Linked DNA regions of Homo sapiens: region 1 is linked to region 2. Evidence: fine-mapped expression QTL. Tissue or cell type: lung. Region 2 holds a variant in brackets; the other region holds the start of a gene. All regions are shown on one strand. Distances are between the middles of the regions.

Region 1 (2,684 bases), 35 kb before region 2:
GGGCGGGGGAGTTGGGGGGACGGTTCTTGCTCAGACTAAAAAGAAGAATCTTCTGTAGGGCTGGACTTGAAGTGTATGTGTGGTATAGACCAGCTAGGACCCAAATCCTGGCTGGGCCCTTTCCTAGCTAGCTGTGTGGCCCCATCTCATTTTGCCCGTTTGTAAAATAGGGGTAAGAGTCCCTACACACAGGCTTGTTATGAGAACTCAGGCAGTTAATAAGAACAACATGGCAAGCCAGCACGATGTGGTTGGCACTCCTCTCCTTCCAGGACATCCTCATTTCCTCCATGTCCCAACGCGCTCCGTACTGCGTGCCAACACCTCCCCTTACCCCTCAATAGTAGGGGTGGGGACCCCCACGCAGACCTCCCAGATAGAGCAGCGTGGACTGTCTGCGCGCCCCTCTCCAAAAGCAAAGCGTCCCACTGGGACTTTAGGGGGCGCCAACAGCCTTTCACTCCCTGATGCACTCGGCTTTCGGGGTCCTGGGGGTCGCCAAATGCGCGCGGCGAGTTGGCTGCCTCCGAAACAAACCAGGTAAATAGTCCACGGTGCAGCACGTACATTTCTGGCAGGTCCGCCCCGCGCAGGCTTGGGATAGAAGCCAGTCAGGCTCAGCCCAGCTCCCAGAGGCACAGGAGAGAAGCGCTAGATTTGGGAACGACCTGCTTTCCGAAGCTGGGCTGCAGAGGCAGGGAGTTGAGAGTTGTTCTATCCAGAAAGAAGCAGGGGGGGCGAGAGAAGAAACAGGAAAGTGGGAGGAAGAGGAGGCAAAAAAGAAAGCGCTGGGAAGCAGAGTTCCCTGTGGGACCCAGCCTACAACACCTGGGCAGGGACTTGGGAACAAAGCAGCTGCTTCAGGTCAGAAGTGCTCTGGGTGTTTCCGAAAAGAGGGCGCTTCGGAGAAGCCGGAGCCCGCTGGGGATGCCGGGCGCCCCCAGAGTTCAGGGAGCGCTCTCGGGCACCTCTTACCTTTGCTGGGGCCCCGGCGCGCACTTCCGGGGACTGCGCTTGGGGCGCGCGGGGCCGAGCAGGGGGACCCGGAGCTGATCACTGAGGGGCGGACACGACAAAGCGCTGCCCGGGTCTTGGGCCGGCACCAGTACCTCGGAAAGGAATCCCGGCGGAGGGGCCGCCGGGGTCAGGGCTGGCCTGGGGATGTGGGGTCCCGGCCTGGGTGCTCACGGACGGCGGCGCCAAGCCCCGCAGAAGCTGCAGGAGCCCGAGTCAGTGGGAGGAAAAGGTTGTCTCATTTCCTTCGATCTCCCCCCTCCTCCACCCGCTTGGCTCCGGACCTGCCCTCCCTCTCCCCCGCCCCCTTCTGCAAGCCAGCGGCCCATGTGGGCGCCCGCAAGACGCGAAACCTGAACGGCTGCGGCGTGCGGCACCTCCCTCCGCGCCAAGTTAGTTCACGCTCCCAACTCCTGCCTGCCTCCCCGCGCTGCCGACTGTCCGCAGGACCGGGGAGGTTCCCCATCGGCAGTCCCCAACCTATCCCGGTCCTCCAGGCTTTCCCCCTGCTGGGACGAGCCCAGATTTGAAAGCAGACCTCCAAGCCCCTGCCAGCATCCATCCTCTCATTCCTGTCCCGTCGCCTGCTTTGAGCCTGTATTCAGCTACTCAACTCAGACAGGAAATAACCACTTACTTTGTTAAATTTGATCAACTTTTTTTTTTTTTTTTTTCTGAGTGGGAAGTTAAAGCCTGATGCATAATCTCGAAGGAATGTTCATTTTTATCGGAAGAAATGCAGCTGAGGCCTCTGTTTGGCCTTTCTCTTTCAGGGTTGGGGTTTTGTTTGTTAAAATCAACAAGTATTTTATTGAGAGTGATGGGCGCTCAGCTGGGGGCTGGAAACGCAGAAACAACTAGAGGGACACCCTGTTCCTATACAATCGTCATAGGGGAAGAGTGCAGGGAGAGAACAGGTCCCGGGTTGCGGTGGTCTCTTAAGAGATGGGTCACGGAGTGAAAGAGCCTTCTACAGAATCAAAATAAAAGCTTGGACAGAGGGAAGACGGAATAAGAAAGCCTTCAGGAGGCGGTCTAGCAAAGAGCACAGCCAGGGCAGTGAGTGATGGTGGGGAACAGGGAGGAAAATATTGTGCCAGTCCGTTAGGAAAGGAGAGGAGCTCCTAGAAGCAGTGTGATGGAACTGACAAGATCTGATGACCAAGGGCTTGAAAGGGAGAAGATGAGGAGAGGATGAAGGAGAGAGGTGACTCCCAGGCCTCTGGCTAGAGTAGCCAGTGACCACGTGGATGACTAGAATCCCAGAGTGCCTTCTGGAGCTGCTACTCCAAGTGTGGTCCAGAGACTGGCAGTACTAACACCACATGGAAGCTTTATGGAAATGAAAACCCTCGGGCCGCACTTGAACCACTGGATTAGTATCTGCAGCTTAACAAGATCCCTAGATGATTCAAATGTGCATTAGAATTTGGAAGCACTGGCTGCTAGACCACTGACTGTATATTATGCTGTATATTGGACTGATTGTATATTAGACTATGGAGCCCTGGGTGTCTATTAGAAACACCTGGGGAGCTTTAAAAACCAATAGGTGGCCCCAGCTCCACCCTCACAAATATTTCTGTAATTGTCTGGGGTGGAGCTCCCACATCAGTTTTTTTTCAGATGCTCTCAAGATGATCTCATACAGCCAGAGATGAGAGCCACTG
Region 2 (2,684 bases):
TATGTTAAGTGAATAAAGCCATTTTAGAACAGTACATACAATAAATTCCATTTGTGTGAAAAATTAAAACATAAAAATATTATAATTTCACAAGTACACATGTGCATGTAAATATGTATGTAAAAATTCGAAGGGATACACACATATAATTCACCCTGGAGAGGAAAATGAGAAGTGGCAAACGGGGATTTCAGCATTATTTGCAGTACTTGAATTATTTATAAACAGAATGTATACACATATTACTTGTACAAAAGGTAAAAACTTCTATATGTAGAAATAAAATTAAATGATTGATCTAATAGGGAGATAATTACCTATAAACTGAATAAAGAAAACTCATCACCCAGGATACCAACACAAGAAGCATTGGTGGCTATTTTTGCATAAAAGATGAAAGAAAGCAGCCATAAAAAAGTTTATGTTCTTCCCCCAAGGAAAAGAATGGCAATCAATGACAAGTCACAGCTGCATAGACGCAGCCCCATCTATGTGCTGACTCAGGAGGTAACGCAGTGCTTCCTCTCTTTGATTACCAGGGGTCTTGACTTCTGTACTAAAGTAAGAGAGAAAAATAATCTCTAAAAAACAGTTTTAATAAATATCACCTTTGCTGAGGGTAGGAAAACGACACTAATTTCACTGACAGACAGATTATCTCACACCACTGGCTTTTCAGAAAAATTGTGAAGCATGTCTGTAAGACAGCCCTTTAAAAAGACAATACTCTATGAAGTATTTTAAACACTGTTAACTAGAATTTTCTTTGTTAGTTTATGTCCCGGCATTCATAATTATGAGTTGCACATGATAAGCAAACAAAAGCCACTACCATTCAACTGATAGCATCATTTTCTCAACAGTTACTGGTTGTTCTGAGAATACTGACAGGCCCCTGACAAGTTTACTGGGTGAAAGAGTGCTAATTCCTGCATTAATAAGGAGAGACTTTTGTCATTAATAAGTCTTTGAAGTAGAAAAAAAAAAACCCAAATTGGTTAAGAGGCATGATCCTAATCCCAAAGCCACAAAAGAATGAGAAAGCTTCAGAGGGATAAGCCTACAATCTCTGCCTAGATCAATCAGGCTAGACTAGACTATGCTACCATAACAAACATCCCCCAAATCTCAGTGGCTTCAAACAATAAAAATCTCTTTATTGCTAATACTACA[C/T]GTCCATCGTAAGTCAGCAAGGAGGTCCTGTACATCACAGTCACTCAGGAACTCATACTAACAGAGCAACTGCCATTCAGAAAGTTGCCACTCCCACCATGCAGATAGAAAGACAGAGAATTCTGGAGGATCTTGCACTGGTAATAAAATGTTCTGGCCCAGAAGTGACACACATCACTTCTGATCATTGGCCAGAGCTAGGTATATGGGCCCACTTAATCAAAGGATGCAAGAAAGTGCAATTCTGCCATGTGCCCAGAAGAGAGAAGAGCTATAAATAGTTGGCAAACAACATTAATAACTCACATTAGCCTGGCCCAGGGGCATCAGAGACATCTATATTGAGGATCCCAGGCCAACACCAAGTTGAAGCACAGGTCTGGAGAGAACCTGGAGGCCTCAGGTTGGCTTAACCAAGAAGTAGAAAAAACTCATCCTGCCCAAGAATCTTAACATAAGTGGAAAAATCCAGTAATGTCTAGTTTAGAATAATCTGTGCATGTAGGTGATGCTGGGATGTTTCTCCAAATTCCTCACAAATGATTCATGATCAGTAATTTTCAAAGCTAGCTGGTCATCAGAATCACTGGGGATGCTTTAGAAACTAGGAATGTCCAAGATCAACAAACCAGCAGGAAAAAAAAAAAAAAAGAAAGAAAAAAAGAGATGTCTGAGTCTTATTCCTAAGAATTTTAATTCAATATACAGTTGGAATAGGTCCCAAGAATCTACATACTTAATCCTCTGTAGTAAAATAAAAAGGCTTATTTGGTCCTTGTCCCCCATTTCTGGCACTGAGCTTCTAATACCCTTGGAATTTTCTGACTGTTAGAAGTGTTAGGGATGTCTCGTTATTCATAACAAGCTCTTTTCAAACATATCTGAGTCTATACTAATGAGGTGACTCAGGGTGGGCCTGAGATAGCTTCTCATGGGTTCCAGGGGGATCAGCCATGTGAGTGGAGGGTTGAAACTTTGAGCTACACAGTTCCACTCTTGAACCTCTCGGGAGGGGAGTGGAGCTGGAAATTGAGTCAAATTACAAATGGCCAATAATTTAATCAATTATGCCCTTGTAACAGAATCTCCATTAAAAAAAAAAACACCCTAAAAGATGGGGCTCAGAGAGCTTCCAAACTGGCAAACACATCCCCAAAGGCTCTTGCACTTGGGACCCTCCCAAACCTTGTGCTATGTACCTTTTCACCTAGCTGTTCATTTGTATCCTTTATAATCAACTTCAATAGTAAATATAGCATTTTTCTGAGTTCTGTGAATTGTTCTAACAAATTATCAAAACTTGGGCCAGGAGAAGCTATGAGAACCCCCAAGTTTGTGGCCAATTTGGTAACTTTGGGGGCTTGATACTTGTGACTGGCTCCTGAAGTGAGAGCAGTCTTGTGGGTCTGAGACCTTAACCCTGTGTTGCCTGACACTCACTCCAGGCAGTTAGTGTCAAAATTGAATTAATAGATGAGTCAGAGAATTCGTTGAGTAGAGGACACCTCTTA

The links. PIP is the estimated chance that this variant, and not a neighbour inherited with it, causes the effect.
Region 1: it holds the start of EVA1A, and the variant in region 2 is fine-mapped to the expression of EVA1A in lung (TOPMed, PIP 0.95).

Annotation. Positions count from the first base shown.
Region 1 is chr2:75,559,705-75,562,388 of GRCh38, forward strand. EVA1A (eva-1 homolog A, regulator of programmed cell death) reads right to left here and starts at 1,235. Exons shown (of 4, transcript NM_001135032.2): 1 at 976-1,235. RefSeq lists a silencer at 1,185-1,244.
Region 2 is chr2:75,594,255-75,596,938 of GRCh38, forward strand. No RefSeq gene overlaps it. Among named protein-coding and RNA genes, the nearest start is that of EVA1A, 35 kb to the left of the region's middle. The variant C/T (reference allele first, on the strand shown) is at 1,174.